Regions from separate parts of the Homo sapiens genome. Here region 2 is linked to region 1. Evidence: fine-mapped expression QTL. Tissue or cell type: non-classical monocytes. Region 1 holds a variant in brackets; the other region holds the start of a gene. All regions are shown on one strand. Distances are from middle to middle.

Region 1 (8,100 bases):
GGGCTCCGGGCTCCAGGCTGCACAGCGCTGCAGGTTACAGGCCTGAATGGCAGGGGGCTTCCCAGGCAGCCCGGCACACTCAGCCTCCTCCACGGCCTCCTGGATGCCGGCCCCGTCAGACGAGATGCAGTACACGGAGCGGGACTGGGAGCCTCCTCCACAGGAGGCTGAGCAGGGTGCCCATGGCCCTGCCTTCCAGCTGGCAGGAGGGGGAATCAGGTAAGGCTGGCCCAGGAGCATGGGCAGAAACCCAGCCCTGAGGGTTTCTGCCCTCACTCACACAGGTGGCCTGAGGACCCCCACCCCAGCCCATCCTCTGAGCCTCCAGCCTGAACAAAGGCTACGACCCAGGCGCTCCTTAGCATCCCCACCACCGGGCCTGGCTCTCTGAGCGCTCCCCACAACTCGGGGCCCTGCGCCTCCCCCTTGGCTTTCCTGTCCTCAACCCTATCCCCCTTTCTCCTTCCCACCAGGTCCCTGTCTCCCAGTCAGACTCCATTCCTCTCGGTCTGACCTTAGTCAAGGGGCAGCTCCTGGAGAGGCTGTGCTCACCCATGCGTGGAGCGGCTCTGCCAGGCCCCGGGTGCAAGGACCCAGAGGAAAGAGCAGCCCTGTGGCCCCATGCAAAGCCAAGTCCGCCACCATCCCAGGAGGCCCGCTGCCACCAAGGCCAAGCGGTGACAGGGTGGCACCAGCCCTGCGGGGAGCCTGTGACCTGCAGGTTACCTGTTCCCACACACTCGCTGGGCCCCAGCAAGGCGCCACGCTCCAGGCCGGTGCAGGTAAGAGGTCCTTTGTGCACGAACAAAGCCATGGCCGATGCCAACAGGCCCTTTGGCCTGACCCCTGGCCCACCCCTTGGCATCTGCCAAGCCAAACCCTCTGCTGGCTCAGACAGACAGGGACCTCTGGAACCTTCTCCAACCCTCCTGCCACCAAGCCTAGGTGTTCTGAGTACTTCGTGGTCACAGGAGAGCAGAGAGACCAGCCCCGGGCTCAGGCCTATTCTCTGCCTCCCCCAGGAAGAGCTGCCACCTCTCCCACACCCCAGCCACAGCGTGGGGGGCCCTGGACCCCCACCTCTTTGTTCTACACCTAAAGCAGCTTGGAGGCCTTGTTCCCTTCCCACCCAAGTTCTTGGGCCTCATCATGGGTAGAGGGGCTGGCAAGGTCTCACCGCTTGGTCTCCGGGCAAGGGTGAAGATTGCAGGAACGCCGGTCAGCTGGCCGTGGCTGGCGCTGGCACATGTGGTCGGGGTAGGCCTCATGGTCGATGGTGCAGAACACCAGGCGGGACTGGTGACCTGCGCAGAGGCCCAGCCATGGCGGGCAGACGCCAGTCAACATTCACCAAGCGCGTTCCCTGGGCCAGGCGCCATCCTGCACTCACCCCACAGGTCATCCCCATTCAGTCTTAGATGACCCCCCCGAGGCAGGTGCCACCACATCTCCAATTGGCAGATGAGGAAACTGAGGCTCTGAGGGTTTTTGCTGTGAGAGAGCCCTACTCTGGCACCTGATCACTGACCCCAGGCCCAGCTCCGGTCCTGAGGGAGTCTGTCTCCTATGAGATGCCGCTGACTCTGGGAAGCCCCCTCTGGTTCTATTCGCTTAGGCTGGGGTCCTTCATGGAGTCCCCCAGATCCCTGGGTTTTCCTCAAAGCGACCCCCATAACACAGAGATTTCTCGCCTACTTGTCCATCTCCCCAGGAGGGACTGCCTTGAGGAGAGGGCTGTGACTTGCCCACCTGTGGCCGTGGGATCCAGCACACAGGGCCCATGCCCTCCCCTGGGCCATCCACGCCCGCACCTCCGCCACACTCCGCGCTGCAGTCACTCCATGAGCCGTGGCTCCAGCTGAAGCCGGGGCTGGGGCGGCGCAGGGGCAGGTGGTACTCATAGTGCACACCGGGGTTGGGCTCCTGGCTGATGAGCTGTCACGGGAGAGTCCTTGTTGGGGTCTGCTGCTGGGGAGCACTCCCACACCCTCCGCAGCCTCACAGCCCCCTGCCAGCCTCAAGCCCAGAGCCACTCAACCCCCCATGTACAGAGCTTGGCAGCCTCTTGGGGACCACGAGCTGCCCACTCGCCCTCTCTCCCCACACCCCCATTTACCTCGATGACCAGGGGCTCCGAGGTGGGGCCCCGGGCATGGAGTCGCTCAGGGGCCAGGTCCCCCTCAGCACCCCGCTCGTAATGCAGGATGGTGCTGGCTGCTGGCAGGGCCCGGGCCGCCTCGATGGTCCAGTGCCCATTGAGGTAGTATTCCCCACGAACATTCTTCACAGCTGCGCAGAGGAGACCGCCTCAGTCAGCCAGAGGGAGCAGTGCCGCACCTCCCCCTGCAGCCCCAGACCTGCCTAGGACCTAACCCTAGGCTCTCACCCAGGAAGTTCCTGCTGGCAGCAGCCTCGTCGATGAGGATGCTGGTGGCACCCATGGGAACTATGAGGATCTGGTTGTAGCCTGGGGGCAGAGACGCAGGTGCTGGGTGTGCTGGGCTATCCCTCTCCCGGCACCACTCAAACAGGACTCCAAGTGCCACACAGCACAGAATGGGGGCAGGGAGGGTACACAAGAGCCAGACAGGGCCGAGCTGCTGGGAAAGGCAACCCTGGCAGAAGAGGCCGCAGTACAAAAGCCAGGGTGGCGGGAAGGCTCAGGGCACCCGGAGCACACTGGGAGTGGGAAGGGATGGGGAGGGCATCCAGGCGGTGGCAGCAGGAGATGGGACTGCACGAGCGGGCACGAGTCCTAACCAAAGGCCACAGGGGGCCTTTCAGATGTGACCTGATATGATCAGAGCCTTCCAGTGCCATGAGGGCCACTTGGCCTGGAGTCTAGGCCAGAGCAGGGACAGGCAAGGAAGGGACAGGCAAGGAAGGGGGCAGGCAACTGCCCCTTGTCGGAACCACCCCCACCTCGGCTGAGGTCATTAGCGTCAAAGGTGCCTGCGACGGGGTAGCAGGTCGTGCCGTCACCCCCACACCGCAGACACTTGTCCTCCTGCTTGGACGAGTCCAGCTCGTGATCACAGCCGACAACCTGTGGGCAGAGATGCGGGAGGCAGGGGAGACGGCATCATGGCCACATCAGGCCTTGGGCCCCGTCGCATCCTAACCCCAGCACCCACGCAGCCCAGGCAGGATAGGGTGGTCGGGAGTGATTCAGCCACCAGCCAGGGGACTGGCCTGTGGCTGACAATCCACTTCTCTGTCTGCTCAGCTCCCATCTCCCCTTCTGGTAATAATGCCCTGTTTTCCTTGAGGGGCCACCTCTCTCCCGCAGAGTTTGAACGGAGCTCCCCAAATGTGGGTTTGGGGAGGTTGGAGTGGTTCAGGGTAAGTCCCAAACCAAGACGAATCAGAGACAACCCCCGGTGGCTAGAACTCCTGGGAATGAGGCCCCCTTTCCCTGGGAATTCCCTTTCTAGGGAGCAGAAGGTCGGAGCAGCTGGCGGCCACCTCCACACCTCCTGGGAAGAATGGGCCAGATCCTGATGCTGGACCCAAGGAGAGGAAAGCCGAGTGGCACCTCATTCATGCGCCTGCGGCTGTCCCTGCTGTTTGTTTTTCTGAAGTCGGTTTTAGCCGGATTTCTGCCACCCAGAGGGTTTCTCTTATTGTAGGGCTAGCGTTCTCCAAGGATGAAGGTGAGGGGCCATAGGGCATCTGTGATGCCTGCAAGGTACCCTAGGAGCTGGGCTTGGTGTCCTGGTAACTTGAGAAGACACCAAGCTCATGGCAGCTACCTGGGCCTATGGGTGATGGACAGGGAAACACCCGCACTGAGCCCCCAGGCAGCCCGGAGGCAGGGAGGGGCTGGGGCACCACTCACCCGGCAGCTGCCATCCACACAGACATCCCTCTTGCCAGGCTCGCAGGGCGTCCCATCAACCACAGCCTCCCTGTGCTTGTAGTAGAAGTTCTCCCCCTTGGGAATGCAGTTCAGTTCACACTTGTTTGGGGCTGGGGTGGGCAGGAAGGCAAGACTGAGATCCTGAGGTTGATGATGCCCCTCCCCAAG[A/G]CCCAAGGCTTACCCTAGCAACAGGAAAGCATGGGTCAGAAAGCCCTGCAGCAGGCCCCGCAGAGCACAGATCCCCGCCCCATCCCCAGGAGAAGGGACCGTCTCCATGAATCTGTTGCACCTCTAAGGATCAAGTCGAAGAAAAATCCCAGAATCAGGAAAAAGTGAAACACTTAAAGAAGTCTACCTCAGCATTATTTACCACAGCTGAGGTGGTTACAACAGGCTACTTTTTTTTTTTTTTTTTTTTTGAGGTGGAGTCTCGCTCTTGTTGCCCAGGCTGGAGTGCAGTGGCACGATCTCGACTCACTGCAACCTCCGCCTCCCTAGTTTAAGCAATTCTCCTGCCTCAGCCCCCCTAGTAGCCGGGACTACAGGCACGCGCCACCACACCCGGCTAAGTTTTGTACTTTTAGTAGAGATGGGGTTTCACCATGTTGGGCAGGCTGGTCTCGAACTCCTGACCTCAGGTGATCCACCTGCCTCAGCCTCCCAAAGTGCTGGGATTACAGGTGTAAACCACTGTGCATGGCCATAACAGGCTACTCTTTAAATAAATTATCAATGGAATATTACACATGCTGACTATGCAGTTACAAATGATGATTGTGAAGACTATATGGTGTGGGAAGATGCTTAAAACACAGAATGCAAAATGGTGATTACTATGCAATAATTACAAATATGTAAGCATATATGGAGAGAATAATGTGAAAGGGGCTAAAATGAAATGCTAACAGTGATCTTGTGAAAGGGGCAGGATGAGGATAACTTTTTTCTGGTTTTAATGTTTTTCAGATGGGATCTCACTCTGTCTCCCAGGCTGGAATGCAGAGGCACGATCAAAGCTCACAGCAGCCTCTACCTCCGAGACTCAAGTGGTCCTCCAGCCTCAGTCTCTCGAATAGTTGGGACTATAGGCACATGCCATCATACCCAGCTAATTTTTTTATTTTTTGTAGAGACAGGGTCTCACTACGATACCCAGGCTGGTTTCAAACTCCTGGGCTCAAATGATCCTCCTGCCTCAGCCTTCCAAAGCACCAGGATTACAAGCAGGAGCCACTGTACCTGGCCTGGTTTTAATTTTTTTTTCTTCTTTTGGAGACAAGATCTCACTCTGTCGTCCGGGCTGGAGTGCAGTGGTGTGATCTTGACTCACTGCAGCCTCAACTTCCTGGGCTCAAGTGATCCTCCCACCTCAGCTTCTCGAATAGCTGGGACTACATGGGTGTGCAACCATGCCTAGCTAATCTTTGTATGCCTGGCTAATCTTCGTATTTTTGGTAGAGATGGGGTTTCACACATTGCCCAGGCTTGTCTCAAATTCCTGGACTCAAGTGATCCTCCTGCCTCAGCCTCCCAAAGTGCTGGGATTACGGGCATGAGCCACTGTACCCTACCTTAATTTTTATATTTATCTAAATATATACACATTTTAAAACAACCCAAAAGTACAAACAGGATTATAATCATCTCCATACCATGGAAGGTATCCCTCTACTCTCTTTTTAGACTTTCCCCTGTGTTCCAATTTTTCTATCATGTGACTATAATCAAATTATTTTTGACATGTGTCCACTTCAGGATCCAGGGGGAATTCTGAAAGCTAGAGTCCCACTGGGTCACGCCCACAGCCACAATCCCCACAACACACACACACACACACACACACATAGAGGATATGAGACTCCCACTGGGCCATGCCCACAGCCACAATCCCCACAACACACACAGACACACACACACACACACAGAGGATATGAGACTCCCACTGGGCCATGCCCACAGCCACGATCCCCACAACACACACACGCGCACACACACACACACACACACACACACACACAGAGGATATGAGACTCCCACTGGGCCACACCCACAGCCACAATCCCAACACACACACACACACACACACACACACACACACACACACACACAGAGGATATGAGACTCCCAGTGGGCCATGCCCACAGCCACGGTCCCCACAACACACACACACACACACACACACACACACACACACACACACACACGGAGGATATGAGACTCCCACTGGGCCACGCCCACAGCCACGATCGCCACCACACACACACACACACACACACACACACACACACACACACACGGGATAAGAGACTCCCACTGGGCCACGCCCACTGCCACTATCGGCACAACACACACACACACGCACAGAGGACATGAGACTCCCACTGGGCCATGCCCACAGCCACGATCCCCACAACACACACACACACACACGCACACACACACAGGATAAGAGACTCCCACTGGGCCACACCCACTGCCACGATCGGCACAACACACACACACACGCACAGAGGACATGAGACTCCCACTGCGCCATGCCCACAGCCACGATCCCCACAACACACACACACACATACACAGGATATGAGACTCCCACTGGGCCATGCCCACAGCCACGATCCCCACCACACACACACAGAGAGAATATAAGTGCTCCTTGATCTGGAATCTAGAGTGCCACAGGGTCTCCAGAGGTCATTTGCCGCAAGCAGGGAAAACGAACACTCAGAAGACTTGTCTTGAGGAATCTTCTGATTCATCTAAAATGCTTAATGACATACATGTTGGTGCTTACCTGGGTGTTTTTTCCCTGAACTGTATTTCTCTAAAAATTAATGACTTATACCCTCCTCAGAGGTGCACAGACCATCTCCTCTGGCCCCCAGATCCTTGATAAATGAAGTCTTGGTGTACCAAGCCCCTTCCAGCCCCTCCTGCAGGATGACCGTGGGGCACCATTGCTACCGCTCCCGGGGTTCCCCATCTCCGTCTCTGTGCGACGGGAGGAACGCTTCCCATAGCAGACTGAGCAAAAACAGGGCTCAAAATGGTATAGACACACCATAGCTTCGTTTGAAAATATACATACATAAGGGGAGAAAGGATGGAAAGACCTCAAAATGGCTGCCATGGTGTTGCCACGGGCATGTGCTGGGGGGAGCAGGGGTACTGGTGATTGATTCATTATGGGTTGATCGATGGGGTATTTGACAAATGCTGGCTCTGGCAGCACATATACTAAAATTGGAACGATACAGAGATTAGCACAGCCCCTGCCCCCTTAGCTGGTATGGCATGCAAATTCATGAAGCATTCCATATTTACTTTAAAAATTATTTGGGAGGCTGAGGTGGAAGGATTGATTGAGCTTGGGAGGTACATGCTGCCCAGCTGACATGACACTGCTGCACTCAAGCCTGGGCAAGATCCTGTCTCAAAAAAAAAAAAAAAAGAAAGAAAGAAAAAGGAAAAGAAAAAAAGGAAAGGAAAGGAAGAGAGAAAAAAGAGCAAGCGAGAGAGAACGAGAGAGAAAGAAAAGAAAAAAAGATAAAGAAAAAGAGAGACCTCTTGCTCTCTCTCGAGGGACCTCTGCAGACCCTCTCCTCCCCAAAGGTGGGTCCTGTGGTCTACAAGATTTCCTGTACATTGCGAGCCCCCGCGCCCACCCAAAAAAAAAAAAAAAAAAAAAAAAAAAAATTGGTCGGGTACAGTGGCTCACGCCTGCAATCCCAGCACTCTGGGAGGTCGCTGCCGGCGGATCCCTTGAGCCCAGGAGTTCAAGACCAGCCTGGGCAACACAGTGAGACTGTCTCTAATATATATATATATGACAACGCCTCTATAATACGGCAATAGGAACTGTGGCATCAACGTAGGTATACAAGAGGCCCCGAGAGAGCGAGTCCCGGCCGCGCTCACCGCTGTAGTAGGGCAGCCACCGATACCGCCGCCCCTGGAACTCCGCTCCGTCGAACTCCGCGCACTGCTCGGCCCGGAAGTCCCGGGCGCCGTCGGGGCAGCTCTGCGGGGCGGAGGGGAAGTCGGGATCCAGGAGGGCGGAGTCCGAGGTCCGCCCACCTCCCGCCCCGCCCGAGCCCAGGGAGCCCAGGAGTCTCCCTTGCCTGCCCCATCGGAGCCGCCGGAGGTGGAGTCCGCCCCCCGGACCCCCGAACTCCTGTGCGTGCCCCTCCATGGTGCTCTAGGCTGTGGAGGGCAAGGCCAGTCCCCGGGAGCAGGGTGAG
Region 2 (8,100 bases), 110 kb after region 1:
TGAACTATGCTTATGCAGTTGGCCTTGACTTCTTGTACTTCTGCTGGTGCCTTGAGAAAAGCTTATCATGGATAGCCACTGCCCCTTCAGCCTGGGCCCCAGAATAAGGCATACAAATAAGAACTGCCCTCACCGATCCACACATCTACCTACAAGGAAGCAGAGCCCTGAGTGAGAATACATGCTCTGAACTGCTGAGTTTGGGGGAGGTCTGTAATGTAGAGTTACTATAGCAACTTGTTTTTAAATAATGGTTATGTTGGCTCAGAAAATGCAATAAAAACGAACAAAGACTTAGAATCGCAAGTCCAGAATCCCTTATCTGTAACTTTTAGGACTAAATGTGTTTAGAATTCAGATTTTTTTGGATTTTGTAAAGGTACTATGCAAATGCCAGAAGTTATATAATGCCCCTACAGGGTCTTAGAAGCAGAAAAGCAAACAAATTATTAAGCTATAGTGAAACAAATGAATAGTTTTAAATCACATTAAAAAAAGAAAATAAAGACGATAACTAGGCCAGATTTTGCTGTTAAATTAGTTATAAAAAACCTTGGCCAGGTGCAGTGGCTCGCACCTGTAATCCCAGCACTTTGGGAGGCTGAGGCGGGTGGATCACGAGGTCAGGAGTTCGAGACCAGCCTGGCCAATATGGTGACACCCCACCTCTACTAAAAATACAAAAATTAGCCCAGTGTGGTGGCACACGCCTGTAGTCCCAGCTACTCGGGAGGCTGAGGCAGAAGAATCACTTGAACCTGGGAGGCGGACGTTGCAGTGAGCTGAGATTGTGCCACTGCACTCCAGCCTGGGCGACAGAGGGAGACTCTGTCTCAAAAAAAAAAAAAAAAAAAAAAAAAAGAATAGCAAAAAAAGAAAAACCTTTTAGTTTTCGGATTTCAGAACTCTGGATATGAGACTATGGTCCTATATACCTTTGTATAATTATAAAGAATCTTTCCCAATAAGTTATTTAATTTCAATAACTCTATAAGGGAGATATGATTATTCAAAATCATTGTCTAAAATTCTGAGGAAATGGACAGAATACAACTAATTTTTAATGAAAAATGATTATTTACGTCTAATTAATTTGTAAATCACTTGTTATATTTAGCATTGCCTGCAGTCTTTCTTTTGCTTTGATCAACTTAAACAAGAAACCGTACAAGGCGTTGTGAAAAGCCAATACTAATACCTTTTTCCTCACTCTCATCCAAGCAAGAGTATTAATATCTTTCAATCAACAAACATTTACTGGGTTTCTTCTATATAAGCACACACTTGATGAGGGTTGGGAATTCTAATTAATCAGGTATTACTTCTGTTTACTTAAGGAGCTTACTATCTCTAGAGGGCAAAACAAGTAAATTTTTATACTGGTTAGATATTGAAATAAAAATATGTTAGGTATATTGTGTTAAAATAAATTATTCACATTGGTTTCATCTGTTTCTTTTTGCCCCCCTTTTTTTTCTTTTTTTCTTATGGAGTCTCGCTCTGTAGCCCAGTCTGGAGTGCAGTGGCATGATCTCGGCTCACTGCAACCTCCACCTTCTGGGTTCAAGCGATTCTCCTGCCTCACCTCCCGAGTAGCTGGGATAACAGGTACACGCCAACACACCCGGCTAATTTTTTGTATTTTTAGTAGACACAGGGTCTCACCATTTTGGCGAGGCTGGTCTCGAACTCCTGACCTCAGGTGATCTACCTGCCTCGGCCTCCCAAAGTGCTGGCAGATTACAGGTGTGAGCCACTGTGCCCAGCCTTTTTTTAAAAAAAAAACGAAGTCTCACTCTGTTGCCCAGGCTGGAGTGCAGTGGCGCGATCTCGGCTCACTGCAAGCTCCGCCTCCTGGGTTCACGCCATTGTCCTGCCTCAGCCTCCCGAGTAGCTGGGACTACAAGTGCCTGGCACCATGTCTGGCTAATTTTTTGTACTTTTAGTAGAGACGGGGTTTCACCGCGTGAGCCAGGATGGTCTCCATCTCCTGATCTGGTTATCCACCCGCCTCGGCCTCCCAAAGTGCTGGGTTTACAGGCGTGAGCCGCTGCGCCCGGCCACCCAGCCTCTTTTTACATTTTTTTTCTTTTTTTCTTGACAGAGTCTGGCTCTGTCGCCCAGGCTGGAGTGCAGTGGCGCGATCTCCGCTCACTGCAAGCTCCGCCTCCCGGGTTCACGCCATTCTCCTGCCTCAGCCTCCCGAGTAGCTGGGACTACAGGCGCCCGCCATCACGCCCGGCTAATTTTTTTTTTTTTGTATTTTTTAGTAGAGATGGGGTTTCACCGTGTTAGCCAGGATGTCTCGATCTCCTGACCTCATGATCCGCCCGCCACGGCCTCCCAAAGTGCTGGGATTACAGGGGTGAGCCACCGCGCTCGGCCTTTTTTTACCTTTAAAAATGTGTTTATGGCTAGGCACAGTGGCTTGTGCCTGTATCCCACCACTCTGGGAGGCCAAGGCGGGAGGATCACTTGACTCCAGGAGTTCAAGACCAGCCTGGGCAACATAGTGAGGCTCCCATCTCTAAAAAAATAAATAGCCGGCCGGGCAGGGTGGCTCACGCCTGTAATCGCAGCACTCTGGGAGGCCGAGGCGGGCGGATCACGAGGTCAGGAGATCGAGACCATACTGGCTAACACGGTGAAACCCCGTGTCTACTAAAAATACAAAAAAATTAGCCGGGCGTGGTGGCGGACGCCTGTAGTCCCAGCTGCTGGGGAGGATGAGGCAGGAGAATGGCGTGAACCCGGGAGGCGGAGCTTGCAGTGAGCTGAGATCGCGCCACTGCACTCCAGCCTGGGCGACAGAGCCAGACTCCGTCTCAAAAAATAAATAAATAAATAAATAAATAAATAAATAAATAAATAATAGTATGTTTATTAGAAAATTTAAAATAGGGATAATCACCTTGTGGTTCTCCCAGTCTGCATGCTAATAAATTTGTATGCCTTTTCTCCAAAAGAAAAACAAAACAGGTTTTTTTTTTTTTTGAGACAGTCTCACTCTTTTGCCCAGGCTGCAGTGCAGTGGCATAATCTTGGCTTACTGCAACCTCCTTCTCCCGGGTTCAAGTGATTCTCCTGCCTCAGCCTCGCTTGGGAGCAGCTGGGACTACAGGCGCGCGCCCCCACGCCCAGCTAATTTTTTGTAGAGCCGGGGTTTCGCCGTGTTGTCTGGTCTCGAACTCCTCAGCTCAAGGATCCGCCCCGCGGCCTCCCAAAGTGCTGGGATTACAGGCGTGAGCCACCGCCCCGGGCCTCACATTTTATTTCTATTGGCTAGCGCTGCTCTAAATCTTCTGTTCCTTCTGCTACACCAGGCCTAACACTCAAAATCCCTGCCAACCTTTTCCTTCCTGAAGCTTCCCTCCCCTTCCTCAGCTCTGGCGACCCTGCGCTGTGGTGGTTCTCCAACCACACTCATTCTCCTCAGCTGGCTCCTTGCTCTTCTTCCACCCCCTCGTTGCAAGTGTTCCTAAGTGTTTGCCTTGGCCTCCTCTTCCCCTTCCTTAGCTTAGACTTCTCCACTGCTCCAACATCAACTGGAAATCTATGGAATTGATTCCTGTTTTCAGCTCCAGTCCTGTTCACAGGGCATTTTCACCTGCTGGCACTTCCAAAGTGACACTTCCAAACCACTTCCTCGCCCTCCTCTCTAAACCAGGTCTTTCTTCCTAACTTCCTTATTTCTGAGAATGTCTCTGCCATGTTCTAAACTGAAAACCTCCTAGTCAACTTCACACTTTATTCCCTGATCCTCAATTGGTTCCCATGTCCCGTTAGTGTTTCTTGTAAGCCTCTGCCACCACCGCAGATCGAACTCTAATCACATCTCACCTGAATTATGGAAAAGTCACCTCAATTCTCTCACCCATCCCAGCCTCCACTATGGATTAATATGCCTAAAGCAGAGCTGACCACAACGGTGAGAAGAATCTGAGAGGGAAGCAGCAGCAAACACAAGAGTCACTGGACATGCATGCCTCGAGACAGTCCCGACCAAGGAGAAAGCATCAGACCCCGTCTTCCGCCTCGAACAAGAGGCGTGCGGACTTCGCCCAGAATGCTCGTCGCCCCTGGACAAGGACACACCCGGGGCGTGAGGCGCGGAGTTTCACCAGTTGCTCAAGCAGACCCAGCCCAAGACGCTTCCTCTTTCTCCTACTCCACTCCAGTTCAGACGGCTACTAATCCCGGCCCAAGGCACCTGCGCCCTGAGACGTCTTCGAGCAAACAGCATTTCCGGACCAAGGCTCCCCGGAATCTCTCTCCACCCGGCCGCGCCCGAAGCCCGAGAAACGGGCCGCCCCTCCTGGTTTCCCACACGGGGTTCCCCAGCCCCAACCGGCCGCGCCCCGCCCCTCATCTTTTAGGACACCGGCTTCGCGGCCCGGGCGGCCACAAAGGGCCGGGCCCTGCCCGCGGCCGCCCATGTCCGCGGTGCCTTCCTGGCTTGCCCGGACTCCCCATCACGCACATACGCTTCCCCGCCGCCCCGCTGCCGCCGCGGCTCGTAGCTCAGGTTCCTTCCAGACCAGCCGCTGTTTTGTTTCCGATGTGAAACCGCGGACCCCGGAGCTGCCTGTCCCAGGCCCCGCCCGAGAACCCTCACCGTTGTCGTCATTTCCGGCTCTGGCGTCGTTGGCGGCCGGCCCACGGAGGAGGGGAGGAGCCAGGAGGAAGGGGGCGGGGCCTCCGGCCTGGAGAAACGATTGCGGGGAGAACCCAGAGCTCCACCTGGCCTTCCCCACCTGACGGAATCCGCCCAGAGCGCTGGCGTGGGTTGTCGGGGTTCTGAGGCTGCTCGAGCTGAGGACGAAAGCCCCTATATAAATTGGGCCCAGCGTGTGCTTCTCCCGGCATACAAGCGATGGCCATCCTAAATTTAACACCTGTCATTTCTTTAGGGTACCTATTTGCGAACCAGCTGCATCACAATCAAGAGAATGCTGTTAAAATCGCAAATATCTCTGCCCTCTCCCACCACTCAATGAATCAAAACTTCTGGTGGGTGGCGAGAACCTGAGAAACTGCATTTTAAACATCCTCCGCGATTCTTGGACTCCAACTTTGACAACCAGTCTTTCTAGGTGGCAAGCTAGCTGAGAGCAGAAAATGTGTCTGGTTTGCTGGGTCACTTGATTTTTGCATCTGCCTGCTCTTTGTCCAGTTTTGGTAAAGACAGTACCAATGTCTAATTCATTAGACAGCATACCACACTTACACATATATCCAAAAGCTAAAACTAAAAAATGAATACTACCTTATTTAATCAAGGTGAACGGAGAAATGTCAAACATGGGTATTCAAAAAACCGAAAATGAAATTAACGGTACATGGTATCTGGGCAAGTTACATTCTTCTAAAGTTTCTTTAAAAATCCACCCCCAAGCGGCCGGGTGCAGTCGCTCACGCCTGTAATTCCGGCACTTTGGGAGGCCGAAGCAGGCGGATCATGAGGTTGGGAGTTCTAGACCAGCCTAACCAACATGGTGAAACCCCGTCTCTACTAAAAATACAAAAAAATTAGCCGGGTGTGGTGGCGCGCTCCTGTAATCCCAGCTACTCGGGAGGCTGCAGCAGGAGAATCGCTTGAACCCGTGAGCTGAGATCACACCACTGCACTCCAGCCTGGGAGACAGAGCAAGACTCCATCTCAAAAAATAAAAATTAAAATTAAAAAATAAAATCCACCCCAAGCTATCCCTTCACATTCCTATCGCATCAATCTCCAATCCCTCCTCCCAACCCACTGCCAACCTTGTTCAAAAACATGAGATTCTAATACTTTTTACACACAAAAGCTTCATATTTAAGAACAAAAGTAATATTTTCCATTAGCAGAATGAAAGATAAGTTGTGGGAGAAGGTTGAACGAAAAAAGATGTTTTTAAAATTCTTCACCTCCCCCACTTTAACAAGAGTAGGGATTTTAGTTTGTTCATTTACAAGTGCTCATGCTTGTCAGCAGCACATATACATTTTACAAGTGCTGAGAACAGTGCCTGATACATAACAGTGCCTGATACATACAATAGTTCAGTATTGAACAAATACAGGCTAAAACCCATCTATTTGTGAACTACTTCAATCTGATTGCAGTCCGCTAATATTAATAGGATGTCTTAAAATGCTGATGAACTATTCTTAGAAACAATCTACAAAAATTTTGGGCAAAGATATTCATGGAATATTATATAGCAAAAAATTGGGAAACTAAATATGGTACAATAGGCAGGGTGCGGTGGCTCACGCCTGTAATTCCAGCACTTTGGGAGGCCAAGGTGGGCGGCTCATCTGAGGTCAGGAGTTCGAGACCAGCCTGATCAACATGGAGAAACCCCGTCTCTACTAAAAATACAAAAAAAGTTAGCCAGGCGTGGTGGCGCATGCCTGTAATCCCAGCTACTTGGGAGGCTGAGGCAGAATTGCTTGAGCCTGGAAGGCAGAGGTTGCAGTGAACCGAGATTGCGCCATTGCATTCCAGCCTGGGCAACAAGAGCGAAACTATGTCTCAAAAAATAAAAATAAATAAATAAATAAATAAATAAATAAATAAATAAATAAATAAATGTGGTACAATAAATTATGGTCCACCCACCTCACAGAATGTCATGAAAATTTTTCATGAACGCCTGGTCACGGTGGCTCATGCCTGTAATCCCAGCACTTTGGGAGGCCAAGGCAGGAGGATCACTTGAGGTTGGGAGTACAAGACCAGCCTGGACAACATGGTGAAACCCCGTCTCTATTAAAAATACAAAAATTAGCCCGGCATGGTGGTGTGGGCCTGTAATCTCAGCTACTCAGGTGGCTGAGGCTTGAATCTGAGAAGGAAAGTTTGCAGTGAGCCGAGTTTGCACCACTGCACTCCAGCCTGGGAGACACAGTGAGACTCTGTTTTTCCCAAAAAAAAAAAAAAGTCCTGCAACAAAAAGGCAGTAAGATTTTAAAAAAATAGCAAACCCTAACATTGAATAACCAGCCTTCAGATAATTTTCTTCTCATTTTCTTTATGTCCTACTGTTAGGCCTCTGAGCCCAAGCCTTCACGTATACATCCGGATGGCCTGAGGCAACTGAAGGACCACAAAAGAAGTGAAAATGGCCAGTTCCTGCCTTAACTGATGACATTACCTTGTGACATTCCTTCTCCTGGATAATGTCTCTGGAGCTCCCCACCAAACACCTTGTGACCCCCGCCCCTGCCCACAAGAGCACAACCCCCTTTAACTGTAATTTTCCACTACCTACCCAAATCCTATAAAACTGCCCCACCCCCATTTCCCTTTGCTGACTCTCTTTTCGGACTCAACCCACTTGCACCCAAGTGAAATAAACAGCCTTGTTGCTCACACAAAGCCTGTTGGTGGACTCTCTTCACACGGACGTGTGTGTCATTTGGTGCTGAAGACCCAGGACAGGAGGACTCCTTCGGGAAACTGGTCCCCTGTCCTCACCCTCACTGCATGAGGAGATCCACCTATGACCTCGCGTCCTCCCATCAATCAGCCCAAGGAACATCTCACCAATTTAAAATTGGGTAAGCGGCCTTTTCACTCTCTTCTCCAGCCTTCTCACTACCCTTTAATCTCCCTGTCCTTCCAATTCCAGTTTTTTCCTCTCTAGTAGAGACAAAGGAGACACATTTTATCTGTGCACCCAAAACTCTGGCATTGGTCACAGACTCGGGAAGACAGTTTTCCCTTGGTGTCCAATCACTGCAGGAACGCCTGCTTGATTATTCACTCACATTTCAGAGGTGTCTGATCACCACGGGGATGCCTGCCTTGATCCTTCACCTTGGTGGCAAGTACCACCTCCCCTTGGTGGCAAGTACCTCCTCCCCTGGGTGGCAAGTACCACCACCCACTCCAAGTCTCTACCCTCTCTTTTCTCTGGGCTTGCCTCCTTCACTATGGGCAAACTTCCACCCTCCATTCCCCTTTCTCCCTTAGCCTGTGTTCTCAAGAACTTAAAACCTCTTCAACTTACACTTGACCTAAGACCAAAACACCTTATTTTCTTCTACAACCCTGCTTGGCCCCAGTACAAATTCGACAATGGTCCCAAATAGCCAGAAAACGGCACTTTTGAT

Which allele goes with the higher level. Alleles are on the strand shown, and positions count from the first base shown. SD is a standard deviation of normalised expression in the study named.
For the expression in non-classical monocytes of the gene that starts at base 4,557 in region 2, G is the low allele of the variant in region 1 and A is the other (moderate effect, 0.72 SD a copy in Schmiedel 2018).

Evidence for each region. PIP is the estimated chance that this variant, and not a neighbour inherited with it, causes the effect.
Region 2: PSEN1 starts here. The variant in region 1 is fine-mapped to the expression of PSEN1 in non-classical monocytes (Schmiedel 2018, PIP 0.95).

What each region holds. Positions count from the first base shown.
Region 1 is chr14:73,245,853-73,253,952 of GRCh38, reverse strand. PAPLN (papilin, proteoglycan like sulfated glycoprotein) reads right to left here. Exons shown (of 27, transcript NM_001365906.3): 5 at 7,778-7,880; 6 at 3,839-3,969; 7 at 2,923-3,046; 8 at 2,387-2,467; 9 at 2,117-2,289; 10 at 1,812-1,935; 11 at 1,178-1,304; 12 at 1-199. PAPLN-AS1 (PAPLN antisense RNA 1) reads left to right here and starts at 7,952. Exons shown (of 2, transcript NR_135248.1): 1 at 7,952-8,100. It also overlaps the pseudogene RNU6-419P. RefSeq lists silencers at 5,300-5,379, 7,848-8,100 and enhancers at 6,191-6,692, 6,831-6,900. The variant A/G (reference allele first, on the strand shown) is at 4,028.
Region 2 is chr14:73,132,964-73,141,063 of GRCh38, reverse strand. PSEN1 (presenilin 1) reads right to left here and starts at 4,557. Exons shown (of 12, transcript NM_000021.4): 1 at 4,481-4,557. RefSeq lists an enhancer at 4,098-4,207 and silencers at 4,378-4,437, 4,698-4,777.